Regions from separate parts of the Homo sapiens genome. Here regions 2, 3, 4, 5, 6 and 7 are each reported to be linked to region 1. Evidence: microRNA targets listed by miRTarBase, many of them from high-throughput screens and not tested one by one. Region 1 holds a microRNA gene; each other region holds the end of a gene's coding sequence.

What was found. The annotated mature microRNA hsa-miR-548ab reads AAAAGUAAUUGUGGAUUUUGCU and lies in region 1 at 1,643-1,664, shown strand. An mRNA with a match to its seed (bases 2 to 7 or 8) in the 3' UTR can be bound and repressed. Matches are read on the target gene's strand: a 7mer-m8 pairs with bases 2 to 8, a 7mer-A1 pairs with bases 2 to 7 and ends in A, and an 8mer does both.
Region 2: the mRNA of KIAA1586 is a reported target of hsa-miR-548ab. Seed matches in the 3' UTR shown: 8mer at 1,004-1,011.
Region 3: the mRNA of PPP1R18 is a reported target of hsa-miR-548ab. Seed matches in the 3' UTR shown: 7mer-m8 at 1,354-1,360.
Region 4: the mRNA of RCC2 is a reported target of hsa-miR-548ab. Seed matches in the 3' UTR shown: 7mer-A1 at 3,017-3,023.
Region 5: miRTarBase lists SIX4 as a target of hsa-miR-548ab. Seed matches in the 3' UTR shown: 7mer-m8 at 3,190-3,196, 7mer-m8 at 2,789-2,795 and 7mer-m8 at 158-164.
Region 6: the mRNA of GIMAP4 is a reported target of hsa-miR-548ab. The part of its 3' UTR that is shown has no 7-base or 8-base seed match.
Region 7: miRTarBase lists YAP1 as a target of hsa-miR-548ab. Seed matches in the 3' UTR shown: 7mer-A1 at 3,480-3,486 and 7mer-m8 at 3,072-3,078.

What each region holds. Positions count from the first base shown.
Region 1 is chr3:103,521,668-103,525,748 of GRCh38, reverse strand. It overlaps MIR548AB (microRNA 548ab), which reads left to right and starts at 1,633; the gene lies at 1,633-1,716.
Region 2 is chr6:57,054,126-57,058,206 of GRCh38, forward strand. It overlaps KIAA1586, which reads left to right. Exons shown (of 4, transcript NM_020931.4): 4 at 1-1,100. The coding sequence ends at 738. Among named protein-coding and RNA genes, the nearest start is that of KIAA1586, 9.5 kb to the left of the region's middle.
Region 3 is chr6:30,673,894-30,677,974 of GRCh38, reverse strand. It overlaps PPP1R18 (protein phosphatase 1 regulatory subunit 18), which reads left to right. Exons shown (of 3, transcript NM_133471.4): 3 at 687-1,586. The coding sequence ends at 706. Among named protein-coding and RNA genes, the nearest start is that of DHX16, 2.9 kb to the right of the region's middle. RefSeq lists a silencer at 2,877-3,016.
Region 4 is chr1:17,405,396-17,409,395 of GRCh38, forward strand. It overlaps RCC2 (regulator of chromosome condensation 2), which reads right to left. Exons shown (of 13, transcript NM_018715.4): 13 at 1,365-3,799. The coding sequence ends at 3,695. It also overlaps RCC2-AS1. Among named protein-coding and RNA genes, the nearest start is that of RCC2, 32 kb to the right of the region's middle.
Region 5 is chr14:60,709,812-60,713,892 of GRCh38, forward strand. It overlaps SIX4 (SIX homeobox 4), which reads right to left. Exons shown (of 3, transcript NM_017420.5): 3 at 1-4,081. The coding sequence ends at 3,596. Among named protein-coding and RNA genes, the nearest start is that of SIX4, 12 kb to the right of the region's middle.
Region 6 is chr7:150,572,542-150,576,622 of GRCh38, reverse strand. GIMAP4 (GTPase, IMAP family member 4) reads right to left here. Exons shown (of 3, transcript NM_018326.3): 3 at 2,670-4,081. The coding sequence ends at 3,563. Among named protein-coding and RNA genes, the nearest start is that of GIMAP4, 7.2 kb to the right of the region's middle.
Region 7 is chr11:102,229,472-102,233,552 of GRCh38, reverse strand. It overlaps YAP1 (Yes1 associated transcriptional regulator), which reads right to left. Exons shown (of 9, transcript NM_001130145.3): 9 at 129-3,851. The coding sequence ends at 3,613. Among named protein-coding and RNA genes, the nearest start is that of BIRC3, 86 kb to the left of the region's middle.

The sequences.
Region 1 (4,081 bases):
ATCCTCATTTATACAGTTAGGTCCCCATCCTATCCCTGACATGTTTCTTCCATCTCAACTTTGCCATCACATTGAGGCACTTCTTGGTCTCTCCACATGTTGCCTATCAAAACTTATCTGCTGTAACCCCGATTCCAAGTGAGTTCTTGCTCTTGGTTATCAACCACTTGGAAAGTATTCAGTATGTTTTAATCATGTATTAAATGTGGATGGTGCTTTTATATTTTTCTACTTCCTCATATTAGCATTTAATACTTTATTCCATAGGAAAGAATTCCCCCTAATAGAATGTCTGGTTATTTGACACCTACAAAGCAGGCAAATTTTGAGCATGGAAAGCTACCTGGTGACCCTCAGTCAAACCATGTGGAGATTTGCCAACAGGAAAGATTAGCCTGGCAGCACACAGTACCGAGTCATAAACTATTTGACTCTAAAACCTGGATATGGCAATGATTGTATCAGTAGCCATAAATCAGGCAATTATCTGAAAGTGGGGAGAAATATGGGGTTCACTTTCAGCACCCCAAAATCATTTCACTTTAACAAGGAAACACACATTTTAATTCATTATTACTTTCATACTTCTTTTCTTTATTCATTGATTCTGAAGAATAACTAGAAATAATTTCCAAACTGTTGTTTACCTTTTCCACCACTCTTTGTAATCAAATTTGCATTTGTCCTTTGCTTTGTGGACAAACAAATGATTAAACATGTTTTCAATTATTCTTCGGTGTGCCATTAGCCTACCTCTTTTTTCCTTTTATTCCATTTGGTAAATAAAATAAAAATATTTAATATATGTGCTGATATATTTACCTTTGCATTAGATTTTCCCCTTTGTTTTTGAAAGAAGTCCCCTTCTTCAGGTAAATAATATCAAATAGAGTAAATTTGATCAACATTGTTGCAGGAATCCATTTTTCACAGTCAATTAGAGAAGCAGAAAAGGAGGAGCACCACCCTTCTTTCTCTTCCATATCTATTATTTCCAACTGGCCAGGCAAATTGATAGTGCATGTGAAGATGGCTGTGGAATCATGGCAAGCTTGTAACTGTGATATGGTCTATGAAATTCTGCCTGCATACCTATACAACTCCAAGCAATGTTTACAAATTCACACTACTCCTCTAGTAGGACATTTTGAGAGGAAAAATACTTTTTATGAAGAAAATTTAGGGTTTTAATAATATTTCTTTTGATTAAAGTATAATACCAATTTAGTACCCAAATTATTGAAAACATGGTTAAGTTCAAAGAAGATAAATGAAATATCCAAAACCCCATAATAAAATTGAAGCTTTATGTGTGCATATATGTGTATACTTGTGTGTATTTGTGCACTCATGTTTACTTGTATTTACATACATAAACTATGAGAATCACTCATGGTGTTCATTTCTCAAATTAACACATAGTCTACTGTGAGAAATTGAATCAATTAACTTATTTGTGTATTATATCTTGGAAGCCCAATTGGATATTCTAAATACTGGGCAATTAGAAATGGAATGAGCCGATATATTGGGTGGGTGAATTCTTTATACTAGTTTTGTTTGCTGTAGATCTCTATTTATTTATTTATTTATTTACAATAACATGTCTATAATCTGTTTTTTCCATCCATTATGTTGGTGCAAAAGTAATTGTGGATTTTGCTATTACTTGTATTTATTTGTAATGCAAAACCCGCAATTAGTTTTGCACCAACCTAATAGAAAGCATGTTCCATTGGGGCTAGGTCAGCAGTGTATTGGCTCACCACCTCTTCCTCAGATTACCTGATATAAATCAGGTGTTCAGTGACTATCTGTGGGTAGAGGTAGATATATGATTGCAGATTACAATTAGCCTTTCACTGTGCCAGGGTCTGATACAGGCATTGCAGAGCCTCATGTTTACACAACTGAGGACTCTCTTTTTTTTTTAAACAAATATTAAGACATTAATACAAACTTGCAAGACATCTTCCAGAGTCTCAGAAGAAGCCTTGGCTAGGGAGGTGCCCCCAAAGCTTAAGCTTTATTATTTCTTTGGAAAATTCACCTCTGCTTTCACTATATTTGATATATTAGTTTTAAATATTTTTGTCTTCACACATTCTGTCCTGGTCCATTTTTTTCTCTTTGTCTGCATTTTCTAGCTATATAGATACAATGTTCTATTGGATCTTCTTGTTTGTGAATGAAGAGATTTTATTTAATAAAAAGACATTTGGACATTTGATTTGGTTCTTCCCATGGTGTCTTCTTATGAATTGCTGTATGTTTTCATATATCTGATAATTACATTCTGTTTTCTCATACTTATACAAGGAATTCTACACTCACACAGCATTAGAAATTAAGATAAAATGTGTAAAATTCTGTTGTTTCCTGTCCTGAGTATTTAACCCCCATATGAAGAATGGAAACGGTTAGATAAGCCAGGGTTGCTTTGCCAGGACCCTGTGCTCATTAGCTCTCTGCATCACTAAGACATCTTGGAAGCAATGCTTTCTACCTGACGGTGCTATCCTCATCCCATGCTTTCTATCTGAGGGCGCTATCCTCATCCCATGCTTTCTACCTGACGGTGCTATCCTCATCCCATGCTTTCTATCTGACGGCGCTATCCTCATCCTATGCTTTCTACCTGACGGCACTATCCTCATCCCATGCTTTCTACCTGACATTGCTATCCTGTCAAGGGGTAATGAAGTTCATGACAATTTTTATTTGTTTTTGTTTTGTAGAGAACTACCATCCAACAGAAATACAATGTGAGTCCCAAAATAGAGCCACACATGTAATTTTAAAAAGTTACTTAAAAAAGTAAGAGAAAACAAATAAAATTAATTTTAGTAATATATTTTAACCCTGAATATATGAAATGATACTATCTGAAAATATATTTTATTGTCACATAATAATTATACATATTTATATGGTATACATGTAATGTTTCAATATGTATATACACATAATCATTAAATCATGATAATTAGCACACACATCACCATAGATATTTATCTTTTTATTGTAAGAATATTCAGAATTCTCTCTTCTACTTATTTGAAATACACTATGCATTATTGTTATTGTCACCATACTATGCAAGAGTACCAGAAATTATTCCTTCTATCTCACTGTAACATTGTACCTATTGACCAACCTCCTCTAATCTCCCCTTACCCCACTCTCCTCAGCTCTAGAAACCACTGTTCTACTCTCAACTTCAATGAGATGAAGATTTTTTATTCCAAATACGGGTGAGATAATGAGGTGTTTGTCTTTCTGTGCCTAGCTTATTTCACTTAACATAATATCCTGCAGGTTCATCCAAGTTGTGTCAAATGACATTTCATCCTTTTCATGGCTGAATAGTAGTCCCTTGTGTGTATACATACCACATTTTCTTTTTTAAAAAAATAATTTCAACTTTTATTTTAGATTCAGGGGGTATATGTGAAGGCCTGTCACATTAGGACACTGTGTGATGCTTAGGTTTGATGTACAAATGACACTGACACCCAGTGAGCACACCCAATAGGCAGTCCTTTCAGGCCTCACCCCATTTTTCTTTCCTTATTCCACTAGTCCCCATTGTCCATTGCTTCCATCTTTATGTCCATGTGTACTGAGTGTTTGGTTCCCATGTATAAGTGAGAAATGCAGTATTTGGTTTTCTGTTCCTGTGTTAATTGCCTAGGATTCTAGCCTGCAACTGCATCTATATTGGTGTGAAGGACATGATTTCATTCTTGTTTATGGCTAGGTAGTATTCCATGTGTACATGTGTCATATTTTCTTTTTCCAGTCAACCTTTCATGGGTGCCTAGGTTGATTCAATGTCTTTGCTATTGTGAGTAGTGCTGCAATGAACATATACATGTCATAACATGCCTTTTAGGCAGAACGATTTATTTTCCTTTGGGTTTATACCCAGTAATGAAATTGTCATGTAAAATAGTAGTTCTGCTTTAAGATTTTTGAGAAATCTCCAAACTGTTTTCCACAGTGGTTGAATTAATTTACATCACCACGAACAGTGTGTAAGCATGTCATTTTTTTCCACAGCCTCTCCAACATCTGTTAT
Region 2 (4,081 bases), not on the chromosome of region 1:
TTACAGTCAAGATCAACTAATATTAAGAAAGCACAAAAATTGATCAAACGTACCATAAGAGCTTTGGAAAATTTAAAAATTGGTACTGGAAAGTATGAATCTCAAATTGAAGATTTGATCAAGTCAGATAAGTTTAAAGATATTCCATTTAATAAAAACAATAAATTTAATGCTCTTCCTAGGAGTATATTACTAGACAATATAATTCAGCACATGAACCTACGCCTTTTATCTGACAGAAACCATGAAGATATTTTTAATTACTTTGATTTGCTGGAACCTTCCACATGGCCTTATGAAGAAATAACTTCACCATGGATAGCTGGTGAAAAAACATTATTTCATTTGTGTAAAATTTTAAAATATGAAGTTGATTTGAATGATTTTCGGGAATTTGTAAATAATAATATAAAATCAAACAATGTTTCAATTCCTACAACTATATACAAAGCTAAAAAGATAGTTAGCACCATTGCAATCAATAGTGCTGAAGCTGAAAGGGGTTTCAATTTAATGAACATAATTTGTACAAGGGTGAGAAATAGTTTAACAATAGATCATGTATCAGATTTAATGACAATAAATTTACTGGGGAAAGAATTAGCAGATTGGGATGCAACACCGTTTGTAAAATCTTGGTCAAATTGCAACCACAGGTTGGCTACAGATACAAGAGTTCGGCAAAAGTCAACAAAAGTCTTCCATGAGAATCAATTGGCTATATGGAACTTAAAATAGAATATTGTATACGTTTTTTGTCATCTGTAAATTATGTACTACACATCCTTTATATACATAAAGGTCTTTTTTTTTTTTGGAAAGCCAGTTAAACTTTTATCAGCATGTTGCTGTTTAAAAGGCGTTCTTTAAGAAGATAATCTTGAAGATTGGTTTTAGAAGCTATAGTTTTTTAGAGATTGGCCCATGTTTGCTAGAGTGGGTCATAATACATATTCCATGAAGTTCTGTACAGAACAAACACCGTTTATAATTTTGTACTGTTTTACTTTAAGTAAGGATGCAAAAAATAGCAGGACTCAGCTAAGTTCTAAGCCCTGGAGGTTATATTAAATAAAAGAGAAATGGAATAAAAACTGTAAGCCTTTTGGCTCTTGTCTTTCTCATTTCCATATCTGTGCTATCTAGTATGGTAGCCACTAGCTACATGTGGCTGATCAGCTTAGGGCTAAAAGTAAAATTTTTATTTATTTACTTTTACTTAAATATGAAAACTGAAACAATGTGAAATATTTTTCTGCTTAGCTTTACTGTTTTTCAGTAATACATTTTACTCTGTTACCTTGCATAAGATATGGTTGTTGTAGTGTGCCTGTCAAACTTGTGTGTCATTTCCAATATTGAATATAAACATATTGCTGATAGATATGATACTGCTGTCAGCAGATGGATTCAATGCAAGTTATTTTTTCTACAAATTGATGTAACATCATGTTTATCTGAATATTTTATGCAGACAACAGGAATTACAGTGATTCCTGTGTAAATTATAACTGGTAATTGAAATACTTATTTTAATCATGATTAAATTATTTTTCTAGTTTACACATGAATATGAGCAAATTTTTAAATTTAAAATGAAGGCATACTGAAAAAGAATCAAGTGGCGATGCAGAACCTAGTACAACTGGAACAGTAAACAGACTCAAAGAAGGTATGTTGCAGATTTGACAATGAATGGCAATTGCAGTTTGCTGTGGCAGAGCAAAACAAGCTGCTATTTAAGAAACAAAGTAGGAAAATTGAGACTTCAGCAGATGCAAAATGAATTGGGTAAATTATATTTCATATGCCAAAAAGAATCAATGAAATTTAGTCACCTAAAATCAGAATTAACAAGAGTTTTTAAAAACAATTTTAGAAGGAACTAAGGTTGTAAGTTTGGCCAGATGTGAAATAGCTGAGATTCTTTTTTTTTTTCCCGAGACAGAGTCTTGTGGTGTCACCCAGGCTGGAGTGCAATGGCGCAATCTTGGCTCACTGCAACCTCCACTTCCTGGGTTCAAGTGATTCTCCTGCCTCAGCCTCCCGAGTAGCTAGGATTACAGGAGTGTGCCACGACGCCTGCCTAATTTTTTTTTTTTGAGACAGAGTCTTGTGTCACCCAGGCTGGAGTACAGTGGTGCAATCTCGGCTCACTGCAACTTCCACCTTCTGGGTTCAAGCAGTTCTCCTGCCTCAGCCTCCCAAGTAGCTGGGATTACAGGTGTCTGCCACCATGCCCAGCTAATTTTTTTGTATTTTTTATAGAGACGGGGTTCCACCTTGTTGGCCAGGCTGGTCTCAAACTCCTGACCTCAGGTGATGCGCCTGCCTCAGCCTCCCAAAGTACTAGGATTACAGGAGTGAGCCACCATGCTCAGCAAAATAGCTGAGATTCTTGCATGAAAGAATTAGGGTTTTTTTTTTTTTTGGATGGGAGAGGGGAGGGTCCTGCTATGTCACCCAAGCTGGACTGCAGTGGCTCACTGCAGCCTCTTCCTCCTGGGCCCAAGCAGTCCTCCCACCTCAGCCCCCTAAGTAGCTGGGAATACAGGTACATGCCACCACACCCAGCTAGTTTTTATATCTTTTTGTAGAGATGGGGTTTTGCCATGTTGCCCAGGTTGGTATTGGACTCCTGGGCTCAAACAGCCTTCCTGCCTTGGCCTCCCAAAGTGCTGGGATTATAGGCATGAACCACCATGCCTGGCTGAGAACTAGTTTTAAATGGATAAATGTGAAATTATTTCAGTTGAAGAAATTGTTAGAAAATTATGAATAAAAGCCTAAATAAGATGTTTTATTAAAAATTACAAGGCCTTGCTGGGTGCTGTGGCTCATGCCTGTAATCCCAGCACTTTGGGAGGCCGAGGCAGGTGGATCATGAGGTTAGGAGATCGAAACCATCCTAGCTAATATGGTGAAACCCCATCTCTACTAAAAATACAAAAAATTAGCTGGGCCTGGTGGCATGCACCTGTAGTCCCAGCTACTCGGGAGGCTAGGGCAGGAGAATCGCTTGAACACAGGAGGCGGAGGTTGCAGTGAGCAGAGATCACACCACTGAACTCCAGCCTGGGCGACAGAGCGAGACTTTGTCTCAGAAAAAAAAAAAAAGTACAAGGCCTTTAGTTAAGCACCAAACAATTGCTATTAGAATATAGGACCTAGCAATATTAAAGATTAATTGATTCTAAATCTGAAAAATCATAAGTACATTTCTGTAGTTTTAGAACAGTTTCATAATTTGAGAAACTACCCAAGTAACACACTACATTGAGTCTCATAGGACTTAAAAATTATGAAGAAATAATTTCAATTGATGGCCCCAAAAGTCAAATTTATGGCCAGGTGCAGTGGTTCACACGTGTAATCCCAGCACTTTATGGGAGGCCGAGGCAGGTGGATCACCTGAGGTCAGGAGTTCGAGACCAGCCTGACCAACAAGGTGAAACCCCACCTCTACTAAAAATACAAAATTATCCAGGCATGGTGGCAGGTGCCTGTAGTCCCAGCTACTCAGGAGGCTGAGACAGGAGAATTGCTTGAACCTGGGAGGCAGAGGTTTCTGAGCTAAAATCGCACCACTGCACTCCTGCCTGAGCGACGGAGCAAGACTCCAAGTCAAAAAAAAACAAAAAACAAATTTATGCAGCTGTTTTTTTAATAATTAAATGTTAATTATTATTATTTTTTGAGACAGGGTCTTGCTTTGTCGCCCAGGCAGTGGCATGATCATGGCTTACTGCAACCTCTGTTTCTAGGCTCAAGCAATCCTCCCACCTCAGCTTCCCAAGTAGTAGGGATTACAGGCACATGCCACCACAATCGGCTAGTTTTTGTATTTTTGGTAGAGACAGGGTTTCCCCATGATGCCCAGGCTGGCCTCGAACTCCCTGGTTCAAGTGATCCACCCGCCTTAGCCTCCCAGAATGCCGATATTACAGGTGTGAGCCACCGCGCCCATCTCATGCAGCTTTTAAAATCTCTGCGTGTGTTATAACAGTTTCAGCTAGATGAGAAAAAAAAAACATTTTCTGTCACAATAAATGGCACTCCAGCTAAGTTAGGTTAAAAAAAA
Region 3 (4,081 bases), not on the chromosome of region 1:
GACGCCACTACACTCCAGCCTGGGTGACAGAGTGAAATTCTGTCTCAAAAAAACAGAAACCAAAAACTACCTCCTAGACTTGTAGAAAATATTAAGTAATTTTATTTATTTATTTATTTATTTATTTTGAGACAGCGTCTCCCTCTGTCGCCTGGACTGGAATGCAGTGGCACAACCTTGGCTCACTGCAACCTCTGCCTCCCAAATTCAAGCGATTCTTGTGCCTCAGCCTCTCTAGTAGCTGGGATTACAGATGTGTACCATCACACCTGGCTAGTTTTTATATTTTTAGTAGAGACAGGGTTTCCCCATGTTGGTCAGGCTGGTCTTGAACTCCTGACCTCAAGTGATCCTCCTGCCTCAGCCTCCCAAATTGCTTGGATTACAGGTGCTCCAGGCCAAGATTAAGTAATTTTTTGTGAAGCACCAAGAGCCACAGCTGGATATCATATTACTTAATCTCTCCTGGAGTTATGGTGAGATTAAACAGTTATAAGGATGCCTGGCACAGAGTCCGAGCTAAATGAGTGATGGATGTGGTTACTGGTGGTAACATGCTTTAGATATGGAAGATATTATAGGACTTCCTGCATGCCAACTGCCCTTCAATTTGTGTGGGGGGGAAGGGTGGGCAGAAGGCAGAGGCTCTCACTCATTCTCTAACATTATTGCCCCCTCTCCCACAGATGAGTCCTGCCGGCGGTGACCATCTTCCAACATAGGGATATACCTCCCTCCTTCTTATAACTGAAGATCCTGGAGCCCGGAAGATTCAGGGCAGACAGACCCTGATAATGAGCCTGGCAGGGAAGGGCAACCAACATCTTGTAACTTGCTTTCCCCACCCTGTTTCTGGGGGCAGAGCCAATTGCCCAATTTCTACCCTAATCCAAAGTCCCTGGTGTGGGTGGGGTTAAACGTGCTGGTGCATCCTAGGTCATCCAAGAGTGAGCGCCAAGTCCTGAGAAGGGGCACAGAACTCCCTGGAGGGTGGAGATGGAGCACCTGCCCCCCATGGCAGGGTACACTCTCCCCACAGCCTTCCTCCCCACCATCCCGTGGGGACTCTCGGGATTTAAGCACTCGTCTCTCTGGGAGGCCCAGACCCCACTCCATTTATAGGCACATCTCCTTCATTTCCTAGGTCACTGCCCCTTTGTTTACAGCTCCTGCCTCCTCCCTTGACCACAGCCTGGTTTACAAATTCCATCAGCTCCCAGCCCCACCTGCCAAAGTCCCAGGTTTACAAGCCACGCTTACTTGCTGTGTCTGCGTGGAATTCTCTCCTCTGTCCCCTCCAGTCTCCTCATTGGAGTGACCTGAAGGTGTGGCTTCCTCCACTTTTTCTCAGTATTACTTTGCCTTAGTTTTCCCCAAGAGGGAAGGCTGGAACTCTTAACTCTGTACCCCTTGATAGTTATTTAATTCTGTTTCTCCTAGTGGTTCACAATTGAACTGAATTGAGATGGTGTCGGGTGGCTAAGGAGACACCTCACCTCTCCTTCCCCATTGTGCCGCCTTTATCAATTGCCTGTTTTGTTTTGTTTGTTTTTTAACTTTCCATAATAAAATGGAGTTCTCTTCAACTCGTCTGCTTCTCCTTCTTTGGGAAAAAAAAAGGGTATGTGAGGGGAGGCTCTGGTGGCTGGGGGAGAGGAAAATGATGGGGGATGAACCAGGAACTCGGCACTGACATGTCAAAAGGGGTCTGGGAAGCTGCACGTGGGTTTCACGCAGGACAAGCAGGTGACATGAGAAAGGGCAGTTGAAGTGTCCACTAGACTGGAAGTGCCATGAGGGCTGACTACATCAGCTGGATTCACTGCAATATCCTGTACCTGTCAACTAGTAGACACGGAATTATTTCTAGAATGAATGACAACAAATGAATGAATAGAAGAAAAGGGTTAAAATATTACAGAGGACACTTTGAGTTGAAGGGTTCTAGTATTCAGAAGCCTGCTGCCATGAAGGCAGCTAGGTAGTGTATGACACAACCCATGTGGCTAATCCAGGGATACTTACTTAAAGAGCTGGGGCTACGAATACTAAATCTGAAATTGCTGCAAAATGAAGTAAGTATGTACAAGAGTCAGTTTCCTGGAAAAGGTTCCCCTCTGATAGACAATGGATTTTATATCGTTAAAGGCCTAAAGGCCGGGCACGGTGGCTCACGCCTGTGATCCCAGCACTTTGGGAGGCCGAGGCAGGCGGATCATAAGGTCAGGAGATTGAGACCATCCTGGCTAACACGGTGAAACCCCGTCTCTACTAAAAATACAAAAAATTAGCGGGGCATAGTGGTGGGCACCTGTAGTCCCAGCTACTCGGGAGGCTGAGGCAGGAGAATGGCATGAACCCGGGAGGTGGAGCTTGCAGTGAGCTGAGATTGCGCCATTACACTCCAGCCTGGGCAGCAGAGTGAGACTCCATCTCAAAAAAAAAAAAAAAGGTTTAAAAACCATCTTGATAGTGCATGGCTTTGGTGCCCATGTAGTTGATATTTGGAATTTTCCCATTTCAAAGAATATCTTATACAAATGTGGAACATCAATATTTTACTCATCAGGAAAATTTGTTTGTTTGTTGTTAGCTCTCCAGGCTAACAAAGATATGGTTGAATAGTTATAGTCCTTCTACCACTACAAGTTGCTCCTCTCAGACTGGTCAGAGGAGGCCCCACACCTTTACTATAAAACAAAATATATGAGACAAATTGAACTTAAGCATACGCCAAAGGTTTTCAATTTACTAGCAAGAGAACAAGCCAGGTGTCAAAAGACTCAGCCAGTTCAGAGAAGGTCTGGGTAGGGAAGGAAACAGAATGATTATATTAGTAGCCTGTTAGGTAAAGGTCTTAAAAAGTTTCCAGTTGTGACCCAGGAAAACAGAGTTAGGAAGCTCCGAGGTGCCAGGGGTGCTCACAGTCCATCTCAGAAACAGAAAACAATGCATTCAAGAGGTCAGGCCAGGTGTGGTGGCTCATGCCTGTAATCCTAACACTTTGGGATGCCAAGGCGGGTGGACTGCCTCATCTGAGGAGTTTGAGACCAGCCTGGGCAACATGATGAAACCCCGTCTCTACTAAAATACAAAAAATTAGCTGGACGTGGTGGCACGCACCTGTAGTCCCGCCTACTCAGGAGGCTGAGGCAGGAGAATTGCTTGAACCCAGGAGGTGGAGGCTGCAGTGAGCCAAGATCACGCCACTGCATTCCAGCCTGGGCGACAGAGTGAGACTCCGAGACTCCCTTTCCAAAAAAAAAAAAAAAAAAGTCAGTGATGTAGATCCACTTGTGGCTATTAATAAGAACAATGTTTCATTTCCTAACAGTAGTGCCTGGTAACTGCAATTAATCACAAAAGTATGATGCAGGATCAAACAAATCAGACAGCAGAGCATCGAGTAACAAATTCAGCTTTTTGTTTTGTTTGTTTTTTTTTTTTGAGCATAGTCTTGGTCTGTTGCCTAGGTTGGAGTGCCTGACCTCGGCTCACTGCAACCTCTGGCTCCTGGGCTCAAGAGATTCTCCTGTCTCAGGCCCAGTGCGGTGGCTCACGCCTGTAATCCCAGCACTTTGGGAGGCCGAGACGGGCGGATCATGAGGTCAGGAGTTTGAGACCAGCCTGACCAACATGGTAAAACCCCATCTGTATTAAAAATACAAAAACTAGCTGGGCGTGATGGCATGTGCTTGTCACACTTGTAATTCCAGCTACTCAGGAGGCTGAGGCAGGAGAATCACTTGAACCTGGGAGGCGGAAGTTGCAGTGAGCCGAGATCGTGCCATTGCACTCCAGTCTGGGCAACAGAGCGAGACTCTGTCTCCAAAAAAAAAAAAAAAAATTCTCCTGTCTCAGTCTCCAGAGTAGCTGGGACTACAGGTGCACACCTCCACACCTGGCTAATTTTTTGTAGAGATGGTGGGGTCTCACCCTGTTGCCCAGGCTGGTCTCAAACCCCTGGTCTCAAGATATCCTCCTGCCTCAGCCTCCCAAAGTGCTGGGATTACAGCAAGAGCCACTGCACCTGGCCTTGCTTACTTTTAAATAAGCAGCCACCAGTGATTTTCTCAAGCTG
Region 4 (4,000 bases), not on the chromosome of region 1:
CAGGGCGTGGTGGCACTTGCCTGTAATCCCAGCTACTCAGGAGGCCGAGGCAGAATTGCTTGAACCCAGGAGGCAGAGGTTGCAGTAAGCAGAGATCACACCACTGCACTCCAGCCTGGGCGACAGAGCAAAGCTCCATCTCAAAAATACAAGACCGAGCGCGGTGGCTCATGCCTGTAATCCCAGCACTTTGGGAGGCGGCCAAGGTGGGAGGATCACGAGGTCAGGAGTTCGGGACCAGCCTGGACAACATGGTGAAACCCCATCTCTACTAAAAATACAAAAATTAGCCAGGCATGTGGTGGACACCTGTAATCCCAGCTACTCAGGAGGCTGAGGCAGGAGAATCGCTTGAACCCAGGAGGCAGAGGTTGCAGTGAGCTGCGATTATGCCACTGCACTCCAGCCTGGGTGAAAGAAACTCAGTCTCCAAAAAGACTGTCGGAGTGGACTGCAGGAGTCAGGGGCGAGACACACGACACTCAATTTGCAGCATGTGCCCAATACACAACAGCCAGTGTGTCAGCAGGGACGCTGCCCCCAGCAGTGGCTTCCCTGCCCACGGGGGCTCTTCCAGGGCAGGAGCATCTGATGGGAAGCTCCAAGCTGCCAAGGGGGGAGATGGGGAAACACCGTGTTTTACATTTGGACTGTCCTGCAACAGTGCACATGCTCCTTCTGCAGCTAACAGGCCATGGGAGACCGTTTCCTCCTCTCCCAAACTGGGCCAATGCCTGCCAGGAGGGGCTGGTCTGGACACTATTCAGCCAGTCAACACAAGGTGGCCTGCACTCGAGGTTCCAGGGATCCCAGGCATCTTTGCGGCTGCAGGGAGCCGGTGTCCTGTGCAAGGGTCTGGTCTAGGACTCTGCCCGGTATAGACTCAGCAGCAGCCTAGAAGGGAGAGTGTCCGTGATCTCTGAACCTACGACCAGCCTCCTGGTGCCCTCTGGTGGGCAGTTGGCCACAATGCCTGCACAGAGCAGCACTGGCCTGAAGCCACAGCCGGGGCCTGACCAGAGCCCCCTGCTGAAGTCTGGGGAGTGGGTGCACATGCAGTCACCGCGCTGGATGCCTCCCATGACTTATTTTTTTCCTCTCAAAGCCCCAGTGAAAATGCAAAGAACTCCACTTCTGAATTGGACAACTGAGGTACTGACTCTGTCCCACTCCCCTAGCATTTCATGGGGCAGAGTTGGGGGATCCACTCACTTCAACCAGTGCAGTTTAAACCTGGAAGCTCCCCTGGGGCCACATGTCTCCTGGCACCACCTTCTGTGGGTGCCAGGGCTTAGGAGGTACACATATAAGGAGTTAAGAAAAACAGAGCTCCGTTCCAACCGAAAAAGAAATGCAAAATCCAAGACAGTAGACAATGTTGTTGTTTATTTAAAATGTTTACTCCAAGAAATATATATATAAAAAAAATAATAAGACAATTACAGCACTAAACCAGGCACCTTCGACCAAATCACAACCTCCTCTTTGATTCCCCTTCACGCTAAGCCTCTTTCAAATTCTTTTTCCTGAGCTGGAAGACCAGTCAGATGCCCGCAGGGTCAGCGCCAAGCACATTCCCAACCGGGCAACTGTGTACCTTTCTCTAGGAGTGCACGACACCCTTCCCCCACAACTCCTTGTTTTAAAGGATTTAACCCATTAGGAAGCCCATTTTTCAATCTAAGCCAGAAGGAGCTGCGGGACAAGGCAGTCTTCACTTTGAAGGTCCCTTTCCTGCTCCAGTCCCTGGGCTAGGGTTCTAGAAGAGGCTGGCTGCCACGTTTACATGAGGCCACCGAAGATCTAAGTCCAGCTAAGCCCAGGGAGGCTCCTGCAAAGGCTGGGACCTCGGGTGCTGCGTCCTCAACCCTCTCGGTGACCACGGCTCAAAGGAGAGACCTCAAGGGTGCCAGGAGCACAGGTGCCTGGGCTGCATTCCAGGAAAGAGACCTGTCCAGGGAAACGGATCAGGCTGTCGCATGGAAGCTTACGTCAGAGATGGTGGTTTTGGGGTGATTTGGACAAATTAGGTTAGTTTAGCAAAGCTCTGAAGTAGCAGAAGCTTCTCCCCTGGACTACTGATTGAACACAGAACAAGAGATGCGCGTGGCGTCAGACTAAGTCTTAGAGAGATGCAGGCCAGTCTCCTCCCACAGGGCCTTGGGACTGGCAGGACAGACACTGCTACATGCCCTCCAAGGGCAGGAGTCACGGTAAGGAGCGACTGGGGTGGAAAATAGGGAAAAAAGCAACAACAACTACATCATTTTTGGCATTTTAACATGGAGACAGTGACAAGTGGTAACAAAGCAAAAGAAAAAAAAAACTTGAAGAGACCAATATTTAACTTTCCCATCCACCCAAGTCTCACACTTAAGTTCTAGTCCCATCTCCCCCATAAGCACCACTGAACTAAATATCTATTTTAAAGCACCCAAACCAGTCCAGACCCTCTGGAAACCAAGAGCCCCAGCCACAGCTGTCGCCTCTCTTGGGTCCAGGCGAGAGGAGGGTTCCGGGAAAGGCACCTCATAACTCACTCAGCGCAGCACACACGGCGGCGAGCTCGGGCACTTGACGAGGACGCAGGTGGCAGTCACAGCATCCGTGCTGACACGCAAGGAAGGGGACTCTTCGGTAATCCCAACTATTTGGTACCAGAGCCAAGCAAACGTGACTAAAGGGAGCTGGGTCAGCAGAACGGTACCCCGAGTCTCAGCAACAGGACGGCCCGCGCGAGGCAGGATCCAGGCGGGGGGGAGAAAAAGAGACCAAAGCACAAGGCGATCGAGGCTGGCACAGAAAGGGCTGATCCTTCTTGCAAGGACTGGAGAATGCACTTGACTGCTGGCTGGTCCATCTCTTAATTGGCGAGTGCGCGTGACAAGGCTCAGCCCTGGCTCCACAGGGAGCCACCAAGCTGACTCAACTGATACAAATGTTCCCACCTCTGCCCCACCCCCAAGTCCCCATGGTTCCACAATCACCTGATTTTCATTTGGACCTCTTTAACAGCTAAAGTAGATATAAATGGCTAAACACAGATCCCCAATCCCCCACCAGGGGGGACACGGCCGATTCTATAATGTCGCAGCCAGAAGGCTGTGGGCGTACAGGCAGCCAAGGGGAGAAACAGAACCGACACCGGCCTAGGCCCATCTGCAAGAAAAAGCGGAGAAGGAGTGACCCGGATGCTTCCGAAGCACGCGAGCGTGATTTTGGATGGAGGCGGGCCGGTGACTGCCTAGCTGCTGCCGGTTCCTGTAAGGGACATTTTTTCTGAGTAAATGGCGATTCCTCTTCCATGTGGCATCTGCTTGGATCACGATGCTAATTGTAACTGGAAAGGGGTGTTTTGGGGAGTGTATTCAGGAGAGGAAGAAAGAAAAAACTTAAAAAAAAAAAAAACCTAGATTGCTCAAAGTTTCTGCCTCTTTTGTAGGAATGGTAAATCAACTATGAGCAAGTATTTTAATTCAACATTAAGGGAAAAAAAAGGACTTTGGAAAGCATACAGAAAAAAAGGTAGTTAACGTTGGATCATGTGTAAAACGGAACCTCAGGGAGTCTAAACAAAAATGCACCTTCGGTCAACTTTTGCTTTTTTAAATTCCTCGTTTGACTTCCCGTCCCAGTGCACATGGAAATGACAGCTGCCGCGAGAGGTGTGGAGTCGGAGGAGTCTCCGGGAGCATCAGAGGGTTCGGGGGTTGTATTCTGGCAGTTTCTTGATCTTCTCTTTCTCAGTCTCACTTTCATCTCTTGCTATCACCAAGGAGTGTGAGTAGCCCATGGCGACCTGGGGGGACAAATCAGCGTTGGGTGTGCCTGAGGCGCCTGGACTAATCAATGCGTTGAAGAGACTCTGGAAACTGGGCTGCTAAAGCGGGTCAGCATGGAGAAAAACAGAGTGCCCTTGAAAACTGCAAAAAGCCCCTCTGCCCAAGACAGCTAGTTTCCATGTGACTGCCACCAACGCTCTGCCAATCAGAGCCTTCCA
Region 5 (4,081 bases), not on the chromosome of region 1:
CCATATTGAGTATATAATTGGTTGCCTCTAAACATACAGTACATGCAACAAAATAATATTTTTGAGAACTCTGAAAGCCAAAAGAGTCACATGCTATACAATTTTGATTAATAAAATGTATGGTGGTAAATTAACATAAAATGTATCAATTAGATACAAAGTAACTGCTAGGCTCTATTATCTAAGTTTTACAAAGAGTTTAAAATATCTTTTGTGAAATGTAACTATTTCCCCATAGTTTTCCTGAATTATTTTTATTATGAGATGATCTGTCAAAACATTTTAAAGAATGAAGAACTTGTGGCTATGTACTAAAGCACACTTGTCTAGCATGTAGCAGGGCAGGCTGCCACACATGCCCAATAATCCAACTTTTAACATGCAAGATACAAGGGCATACACAGAGAGATTTAAGGTCAGTGTGCAATTTAACTATGGATTTTTACCTATGGCTATAATATCTACCTGCCTTTCATAACACAAGAAAGGCACTGAAACGTGTACAATTTAAAAAGTCTTTTCATTACTATAAATATACATGAGATATAAAGCAGTACAACACAGGTGCTCTTGCTTGATTGAGGAACAAATGCACCTTCTCTTTAAACAATAGACTGTCCTTTACTAGATTTAACTAAGAGCTAAATGCCAAATTCTGGCTGATAGAGTGCATAGATAGGCTTACACCAAAAATCCCACAGCCAGCAGCATGGGTTGGGTTTTGCAGGGAGTCATTTACCCCTGTTTTGATCTTCAGGGATCATTAGAGGGTCATTTGCAGCATTTTCAAGCATTGGTTTATGTAAGAGGGAAATTCTGCCACATGACTCCAAGGGTTCTGAGTCTGGCCCTTGGTATGGCAAAAGACATTTGCAATTCTGTGCAAGGAGATCATGGGGTTTATCTTACTCCATTCACATATACATGGGCTGCATACCAACTGGCCCTTATTCAACTGAAAGAATAGAAAAGAACAATAAGTTCTTTATACTGTGCATTGATTCTTACCTGGTATATTGTGTAGCTACCTGAAGTAATTGTAGGGTTATAATTACATCATGGTGGGAATATGAATGGGTTTCCTAGGTAAGTCTTAAGTTTTGTGCTATCTTTTCTTTTTCATAAGGGAGAAAAGAGGAAGAACACTGAATAAAAGAGAGGCTTATTGTATTTTCGGAAAACATATAAAACATTTCCAGTTATATATATATATATAGCATATATAACTAAAAACCTCCCCATCTCTCTTGTTGGATGGGTATTTGAAAATAACAAACTCTTGATATCTGCAGCAATCAAGTGGAAAACATCATTTTTATGTAAACTACACTGCAGAGCCATGTAATTAATCTCAGTAACAGGATCAGCACACACCCAAAGAAAAAACAAGCTCTATGAGTAGTAGTAGAGTGGAAAAGAACTCTCAAACACCTGACTTTGTAAAACAAAACAAAAAACATGTAGCTTCAGCAGTTTAGGAACATTCACCAATTCTATCAAAAATGATGTAGTTCTTTATCAAAATGATGGGAGAGGAATTCTTCATAGGGTTCTTGATATATGCCTGCAAGTTCCATTTATGATAACAAAAGTTAAATCCTCTATGTCCCTTATTCAACATGCTTGATTGATTGACATGTAGAGAACTAGAGTGGGCCCTTTGTTCTGATCATAAAAAAAAAAGCAAGATGTGGCCAGGCACAGTGGCTCATGCCTATAATCCCAGCACTTTGGGAGGCCGAGGCGGGCAGATCACGAGGTCAGGAGATCAAGACCATCCTGGCTAACACGGTGAAACCCCGTCTCTACTAAAAATACAAAAATTTAGCCGGGCATGGTGGCAGGTGCCTGTAGTCCCAGCTACTCGGGAGGCTGAGGCAGGAGAATGGCGTGAACCCAGGAGGCAGAGCTTGCAGTGAGCCAAGATCGTGCCACTGCACTCCAGCCTGGGCAACAGAGCGAGACTCCATCTCAAAAAAAAAAAAAAAGCAAGATGTGCTAACATCTAACACCTTTATGTTCAACAACTTGAAGTTATCTCTGAAGAAATTATTTTCTCACTTTTTTTGCTTTTCAGAGACTAGAGAGCAACTTTACTCACTACATAAATTTATTTGCATTGTTACATCTTGTGTTCAGAGTCTTGATAAAACTATAGCCACGGCTTACAACATTATTAAACAAGCTTCTTACAGAAACCAAAAATATTTACTTTTAAAGAAGACATGATAATATAGTGCAAACAACAGTCATGTGTCAGAGTGTAACAACTGATTCAAAACCTTTAGAACTAAGTTTCAACAGGACAGAATTTTGCTCAATAGAATTTACATATTTTCTTTCCTTTAAAATGGTTTTCATAGCCTGTATAATCAATTTGACATGGTATTTATAACTTATTTTCCTTGTAATGAAAAGTATCAACAATAATTAGTTGTTTATCCATTTGTGTGATAAATGTCATATATATTATTTAGTGAAACTTAAGTTCTTCAGATTTAAAGCAATTTTGTGGTGAAATTAACCCTGTTAGATAGTAGAAAAGAACCATCAGTGCTTCTGTTGACACTTCTGTACCTTACTACCAATAAAAAGGCCACGAGGTAAAAAGGCACATAGAATTCTATAAAAAACATATTTAAATGAATCAGAGTTGCTAAATAAAGAACAAGGATGTGAAAAAAAGTACCAAAATTCCAATATTGGGAGTTAGATTTCCTGTTTCAGTGTTATTAATATTGACCTTAATAGATTCCTGGTAAAAATCATTATTTTTAAAATCCTACAAAAAGTAAAACTTTGTTGGAAACGACTATGTTCACTTCCTGTTCAAACAATAAAAATAAATTAAACAGTAAGAAAACATATTTTTCAGTTCATAGCGCCTGAAGAGAAACATATACATTAAAAATAAAATTCACTGTAATTACTCAAATCCTGCTTATAGAACTGATATATTTACATTTATACTGAAGTTTCAGAGTTTTTAGTGGAGTTCCGCACTTTCTCAGCCACACTGAGCTATTAGAAATCACATTTGGAAATGTGTTGAGACAAATGTGTTTGAGACCCAAGACTTTCTCAAAAAATGCTGAAAAAGAGGTGTGTGTGCATATATATATGCATGCTACTTAACTTTAAAAATATGTACCATTTATGTTTCTTAACCTTTTCAATGCCCATGGAGTAAAAGTAAACAAAAACAATTGTATTATTTCTAATGGTCTGCAGCTATCTTTAATTTTCTATGTTAGGTGTATACATTTTTTAATTTAAAAAACTATCAAGTTCCATTTTGACCTTAGAATTATAGAGTCAACTAAATGATTCACTTTGACTTGATACATTTCACCTTGTCCTTTGTCTCCATCTATTTAAAAGAGAAATTTATAAGTGAACAAAAAGGCTGCAATAATGCAGTTCTACTCCTGTATACTTAACTGTGATCTTCATGCAGATCAATCTAAAGTCTCTTGTATGCATATACTTGCAAAACTAGAGTGTTTTCCTTTAAATGGGAAAATGTTTTGTGTCCTTGGGGCTTCATGAAAAGATTTGCCGCTGATGCCAAAAAGAGGTGAGGAGGAAATAAAGTTCATAAGTCTTGCATATCTTCATCCAGCTGGACAGTCTGGAGCTTGGCAAGCTCTTTTTTGTCTGTTTCCAGGTCTTCACAGACAGTATCAACCATGCCATCTAAGACATACTTGGATTTAGAGTCCAGCATCATTAAGCTACTTGTTGCTTTGCTCTCAGAATTTGATAAGAAATTCTCTTTCATGTTAGCTACCGATTGCAGAACCAAACGATGTTCTTGGACAAAATCCTGATGTACTGCTGGGGAGGGGTGACCTACCTGATCTTCAGCTGTAGGAACTATTTCCCCAAGGGCAGCCTGAGTCATAGGGACTGACAATAGGTCTTGACCAGTAATAAGGGAGCAGTTCTGAAGAGTTGCATAGTTAGTGTTGCTGACAGATGTCACAGTAGATTTGCTTGCCACCGGTGCAGACATTGGTTGGCTATCGGCAATGTCGCGGTTTAGCTCAGTGGGATTTAGTAGTGTAGAGGGACTGAGAGA
Region 6 (4,081 bases), not on the chromosome of region 1:
AGCTATCTATGACAAACCCACAGCCAATATCATACTGAATGGACAAAAACTGGAAGCATTCCCTTTGAAAACTGGCACAAGGCAGGGATGCCCTCTCTCACCACTCCTATTCAACATAGTGTTAGAAGTTCTGGCCAGGGCAATCAGGCAGGAGACGGAAATAAAGGGTATTCAGTTAGGAAAAGAGGAAGTCAAATTGTCCCTGTTTGCAGATGACATGATTGTATATCTGGAAAACCCCATCGTCTCAGCCCAAAATCTCCTTAAGCTGATAGGCAACTTCAGCAAAGTCTCAGGATACCAAATCAATGAGCAAAAATCACAAGCATTCTTATACACCAATAACAGACAGAGAGCCAAATCATGAGTGAACTCCCATTCACAATTGCTTCAAAGAGAATAAAATACCTAGGAATACGACTTACAAGGGATGTGAAGGACCTCTTGAAGGAGAACTACAAATCACTGCTCAATGAAATAAAAGATGACACAAAGATATGGAAGAACATTCCATGCTCATGGGTAGGAAGAATCAATATCGTGAAAATGGCCATACTGCCCAAGGTAATTTATAGATTTAATGCCATCCCCATCAAGCTACCAATGACTTTCTTCACAGAATTGGAAAAAACTACTTTAAACTTCATACGGAACCAAAAAAGAGTCTGCATCACCAAGTCAATCCTCAGCCAAAAGAACAAAGCTGGAGGCATAATGTTACCTGACTTCAAACTATACTACAAGGCTACAGTAACCAAAACAGCATGGTAGTGGTACCAAAACAGAGATATAGATCGATGGAACAGAACAGAGCCCTCAGAAATAATGCTGCATATCTACAACCATCTGATCTTTGACAAACCTGACAAAAACAAGCAATGGGGAAATGATTCCCTATTTAATAAATGGTGCTGGGAATACTGGCTAGCCATAAATAGAAAGCTGAAACTGGATCCTTTCCTTACACCTGATACAAAAATTAATTCAAGATGGATTAAAGACTTACATGTTAGACCTAAAACCATAAAAACCCTAGAAGAAAACTTAGGCAATACCATTCAGGACATAGTCATGGTCAAGGACTTCATGTTTAAAATACCAAAAGCAATGGCAACAAAAGTCAAAATTTACAAATGGGATCTAATTAAACTAAAGAACTTCTGCACAGCAAAAGAAACTACCATCAGAGTGAGCAGGCAACCTACAAAATGGGGGAAAATCTTTGCAACCTACTCATCTGACAAAGGGCTAATATCCAAAATCTACAATGAACTCAAACAAATTTACAAGAAAAAAACAAACCCATCAAAAAGTGGGCAAAGGATATGAACAGACAATTCTCAAAGGAAGACGTTTATGCAGCCAAAAAACACGTGAAAAAATGCTCATCATCAGTGGCCATCAGAGAAATGCAAATCAAAACCACAATGAGATACCATCTCACACCAGTTAGAATGGCGATCATTAAAAAGTCAGGAAACAACAGGTGCTGGAGAGGATGTGGAGAAATAGGAACACTTTTACACTGTTGGTGGGACTGTAAACTAGTTCAACCATCGTGGAAGTCAATGTGGCGATTCCTCAGGGATCTTGAACTAGAAATACTATTTGACCCAGCCAGCCCATTACTAGGTATATACCCAAAGGATTATAAATCATGCTGCTATAAAGACACATGCACACGTATGTTTATTGCAGCACTGTTCACAATAGCAAAGACTTGGAACCAACCCAAATGTCCAACAACGATAGACTGGATTAAGAAAATGTGGCACATATACACCATGGAATACTATGCAGCCATAAAAATGATGAGTTCATGTCCTTTGTAGGGACATGGATGAAACTGGAAACCATCATTCTCAGCAAACTATTGCAAGGACAAAAAACCAAACACCCCATATTCTCACTCATAGGTGGGAATTGAACAATGAGAACACATGGACACAGGGTGGGGAACATCACACACCGGGGCTTGTTGTGGGGTGGGGGGAGGGGTGAGGGATAGCATTAGGCGATATACCTAATGCTAAATGACAAGTTAATGGGTGCAGCACACCAGCATGGCACATGCATACATATGTAACAAACCTGCACATTGTGCACATGTACCCTAAAACTTAAAGTATAATAATAATAAAATTTAAAAAAAAGGAAATGTATATCCTATTTTGGGCAAAATGATTTAGGGCATGGAGAAGCCAATTTCAAGATGGCAGAACATGGAATGTTGGCATAATCACATGTGACCTCTAGGACATACTGGTAGAACATGAAAACACGCTTTCAGGATTTCTAGAAATTATTAGGTGAGGAGAGCCCAGTAGAAAAGTAGAAAAGGGATAGGAACTTCAACTATCGCTATCTCTATAGTAAAGGGAATTTTTGCACCAACAAAACTACACAGGTCTCAGAAACCTTGGTTACTCATAATTTCCATCAGCACATAATGAAGATCCAAGGAAGTTGTGGTCTTTGGCTGATAAATGGGTTGAGATTGTGGCTCAAATCTTCTAGGGAAAGGGGGAAGGGGAGATGTCATGAGGGTAGACAAAGTCTAGCTCCAAAATCATCTTGAACTCTTACCATAAAGTGAAATTCATCCCTGTATTATTAGAAGTAGCAGTAGTATTTTCCAAGACAAAACAGGTTCCAATTCTGCACAAATATGAGATAATTGAAAAGTTTTATTATAAACAACATAAGCAAAAAATTCAATGCAGTGGGGGCAGAAGTGTGTGGATGACCTGCCAAACAATAAGTATTCAAAGTGTTGAGTGAGGGAGGTGAGGTTGCAACTATCTTTCTCTAGAAAAGAAGAGAACTGGGTATTCATCAAATTGGTTAAATTGAGGTTCGTCAAAGAGTTTCTACAGATACAGCTGAATATACTAAACATTGCTCTATTATCTGTTGAATTGCTGTATTTCACTTTTTCAGCATTTGGGGATCATTATTTAATTGAATTTGTAGAGATCGATTTTCCAGACAGGTCTCTGTTCTTCAATGAACAAATGATAAGAAACAATTTGACTCCTTATATGACAATGGAATTAAATAAATTGACACTCATCTAGGAATAATTCTACAATCATCTCCATCTCTAAGATTACCTACTGCAAACAAAGAATTGATCTTTCTTTCTCAAAAACCACATGGGTAAGATGATCATTGTGACTCTGAATGCAAGAATAAGTGAGTGGAAGCTACAAGGGGAGATTATCTGCCAACATAGAAAGAATCTAGAAGAAAAGATTTTATTACAGGTAACATGACATAGCTTGGAGCCATCTTTTTGGTCTCTTGCATACATTTTCTCTGCATGTCTAAGGAAGAATTCACAAGGTAGCAAGCACCAATACTTTCTGCTTTGGAGTTTCACAAATTGAAAATTTGTCCCTCTCTTGTTAAGTCAATCAAACATCTACCAATGGCCAATGGTGGTCCTTAGTTACGAGTGCCTGAGAGACAGAAACTAGAGCACTCGACTATGCTAAATAAGTAAGTATGGGGCAAGGTTGCCAGAGAATATGCAGAAAATACAAACAGATTTTCATTAAGTTTAATCTTCCGCGAACAGACGTAACAAAATAAAGGAAGCAATCTGTAACGCTGTCATGATTAATTCAAGTATCCCATCCTTACTCTCCACTTCCGTTCTTGCCCTTTGCTGCCTTACAGCATAGTGAGCCTCCTGTTCTGCTAGTTTCTTCTCCATTTGCTTCTTTCTCTTTTCCTGCTCCACTTTATCTTCCAGCTTTCTGATTTTCTCTTCATACTCCTCTCTTATCCGCGCTTTCTCTCTCTCCAGCTCCACTCTGTGGAGTTCTTGCATTGCTTGTGTTTGCTTCTGGATCTCCTCCTCCGCCCTTTGGTACATCCTATTAGTGTAGCAGCCTTCCTTGTTCTCCCTCACCACGCGCTGGATCAGGCCCAGCAACTGTGCCCTCTGGGCCTCCTGCTCAGCGCCTGTTGCCTTGTTGTTTAACGCACAGTAGCGGTCACCGAAAATGTCCATCAAGTCTTGAATGTCTTCTGGAGCTTCCCTTAAGTAGTCATGCAAATTGGTGTCACCTAAGTC
Region 7 (4,081 bases), not on the chromosome of region 1:
TTAAGTTTAACTTGTCTTCCCAGTTACTACTGTAATCACCTTTTATTGCCAGTTCTTGTTCTATTGGAAGACCAGTAAGAAGCCAAAAAAAAAAAAAGTTTCAAATATCAATTGTTAAAAACAACAAAGAAGAGTTTAAGGAAAGAATATATTTGAACCACATAAACAAACAAAAAGGTATTACATAAGAAAAAATAATGTAACAATTTATGTAAGTACCTAACATATGAGCATGCTCTTACATCTAAAACAAAAAATAAAAAGGTAACATTGGTACTATATATATATATTTGACAAGTGTGCATTAAAGAATTCTCTAATATAAAACATTTAAAATGTGGAGAATACTTTTTCAAGATACAGAAAACAATTGTTATGATAGGCACACCCACAATTCTTATAACAACATGCTTGCGAGGATAAAATCCACCTGAGCACTCATTTCTCAGATGTACCAACGCTAGAAAAGTGTTAAGCACTGAATATTGCCACCCACTTTTGCAATGTTTGAGTTTCAACACTGATTGGTATGAATTCTGAATTACACAATTAATTACTGTTATTTTTCAGTCTTTCTGCCATGTTCCATATAGAAGGCATGTATTTAATATGAATACTTAACACAGCAACATTATTTGTAGCAAAGTCACTTCCCTGTGTTCATTTTTCCTTTAAAGGCACTACATTTAGAAAAGTTATTACAACAAATAGTGCTTTGGAAGATCTGAAACTCCAAATCAATGTGCTCCATCAACCATAAGTAGATCTAAGAAGCCCTGACTGAAAATAACACAAATGTAAAAAGTTGATAAATTTAAAGATTATAAAATTGGTTTATTGTAAAAGCAATTCAAGAATACCCAGTTAAAATCTTATCCCAATGCTACCCAATACAACCAAGAAGCAGTTAAGCACTTTTACATTAGGAACAAGGACATAAAACAAGAGACCACATCAAGGCTATGATTCAAACTCAAAAAGGGAAAGGACTCTTAGGTCTCCTTCAGGTCAGTACAGAGGGCATCGTAAGATCAAAGCACTGTGCCAGGTATCACAGTACTGCTACAACACTGAGGTATAACTGGGCAAATTAAAGTTGAGGGGTAAAGGAAGATCTCCATATTCATATTGTTTTGTGGGTGTACTTAGGTGACTGAAACTCTAGAACAGCTGCCTTTAATGGCAGCACGGTGTAAGACAAGTCTTTATTAAAGAGAAAGAAGTTTATAAAGTTCTCTATCAAGGTCCCCCTAAATCTTCACAACCCCCCCCCCAAACTTTCCCACCCTCCCCCTAAGCTAAAGCTAATCTGCTGATATATAAGATATAATCTTAATCTGTGGCTACTGGCAAATTATAGGCACTCCTTCCAAGTAGCTTTGATCTTCTGCACATTAAAAAAAATCCCAACAACATGCTATGTAATTCATATACCCAATTTTGCATTCTAGGTAGAATTTCATTACTACTCTAAAACTCCATCTGCAGTGGCCATTTCCCCCCAGACTTAATTCAAGATTTAATCTTTCTGCTGTTTTCTTAATAAAAGCCTTAGAGTCAATTATTATGAGTGATCAACCTATGAACTATTATATACAACACAGTGATTGCATTTTTTTGAGCACTGAAAGTACTTAAAATAAAACTTCTTACTTCCAACTTTTGCCCTCCTCCAAATTGAAGGGCCAAAATACTTAGATTTTGTAATTGGGGGGAAAAAAATCTATCTTCCCAAGCTGAGGCTTTTCATAGCAGCTTTTGCCAGGAGAAGAGATTTTATGCCTGTTATGAACCCTTGAAAATAAGGGCTTATTCTAGAAACATTGAAAGACCCTTAAAACACAGAGGTGCTAGCTGGTGCCACTTTAATTCACAACCAACTATTACTTCATAGCTTATATTGAAGAGTTAATTCATGCTCGTTTTGTTCCTTTAAAAAATACTCTTTGGAAACCATTATTACTCCTGTAGACACATACTCTAGTTACATCATCTCTTCCTGTAAAAATAAAGGTATAATCATGATTATCTCTATTTCTTTGCTAAATTCAACTACCAATATACATTTATTAATCTGATCACTTTTCCAGCTAACTCAAAACCTTATAGTATTCTATCCAGGGTCAATTTTCAGCATAGAAGTAGGAGCAAGTCTTGTAAGTAAGAACAATCTTGAAGGCAATATTTTAATCTAGTCGTTAATGTGTTCATTACAAATGAGAACTACAAACTAGAATTTACTTCCAAAACTAAGGCAAAGAAAACTTCCAAAGCTAAATGAAGGTAAACCACTATAAAGCTTATTTCTGTCATGCACATTATGAACCTACTCACTGAATTCCAATCGAGACTTAAAAATTAGTCCAAGGGAGAAAATAAAGCCATTTCTGGTTTGCTCCTTTCCAATTCATCAGATAATATCTACCGTATGCCCAGAGGGCGTGGAGCACTCCCCTAGGCACTATCCACAGTAATAGCTCTTTCTAGAACACTAAACTACTTCAAACATCTGCAGACTGCCCCAACCAGATTTAAACTACCAGTGAAATATAAACTACTAGTCATGTATTCTAAATGCATACAAAGCGCTACCATTTTAAAAATTAACTGGAAAGCAGGGAAACCTAAAAAAGGATACATTCCACTACCACACTATTATAAATGTTATGTTTGGGTGTGTGTATGTATATAAAAGAGAGAGCAGATAATCGAGATTTAAATAAGGTGGTAAAAAAAACCAGGAAATGAAGATTTTACCAAAACAACTACAATAACCATCCCAAGCTACAACTATTAACAGATTCACTAATATGGTCATTTGCCTAGGTTCCGACAAAACCAACCAACCAACCAACCCCCCCACCGACCCTGCCAAAAACAAAAAAAACAAAAAACCCAACAAAACAGAACAAAATGCACACCCACAAAATTATCCACCAAAATCTATATTAGAGTATGTGGCAATAATTAATATATTTATATGGAAATTGTCTCATGCCTTATAAGCTCCTAAAATAAAATCAAGGTCATTATGTGACTAATGATAGCACTAGGAGGAAAAGAAAATACTGAAAGTAAAACAGTCTTCAGCCTTGGTTTCAGCTATCTCTTCAAATCAGCATTAAGTATTTAATATCAGATATAACATTTTTGGCTTGTCAGACCAGTAAATCATGTTTTTCCACTGGACAAAGGAAGCTGAAGAAACAACTGTTGAACAAACTAAATGCTGTGACATGAAGCATCTGACTTCTAAGTCTGAGTATTTAGTTAAAATGATTGGTGAACATTTAACTGGGCAAAAGGAATGGCATCCATCATCCAAACAGGCTCACTTCCCCCAGCCCCCAAAATGAACAGTAGTTTTAATAGCAAAAGAAATAAAAAGTTTTTTTCTTTTGATTCTTTAGAGCCAACTGTGAAAGAGGTCAGCAATACATTAACAGCAGCAATGGACAAGGAAGAGCAAAATAGAGGATTAAAGTATCTTGCTGGACGTTTGTTCATCTTTTTCTGTATTAGCCTGAAAACTGCAACTGGCTTATGGAAATTTCCGGTGCATGTGTCTCCTTAGATCCTTCACAGATTTAGAATTCAGTCTGCCTGAGGGCTCTATAACCATGTAAGAAAGCTTTCTTTATCTAGCTTGGTGGCAGCCAAAACAGACTCCATGTCATTAAGGATGTCAGAACTCAAAGCTTCCTGCAGACTTGGCATCAGCTCCTCTCCTTCTATGTTCATTCCATCTCCTTCCAGTGTTCCAAGGTCCACATTTGTCCCAGGAATGGCTTCAAGGTAGTCTGGGAAACGGTTCTGCTGTGAGGGCAGGGTGCTTTGGTTGATAGTATCACCTAGTGGAAACACACAGAGATAACAAAGTCCTTTTTGAAAAGCTAACATCAGGGCTGTATCATATGAGCACAGAGAAATGCACAGGGAAAGAAAAGCGCTCCTGACTGACCTAAACTGATACCTAGAATTTATATCAGGTCAAACAACTCACAGATAACAAAATAACAATGCCAAGTTTACTTTTGCTTCAACATTGTTCAGATATCCAATAACAGCTTGATTGCTATTA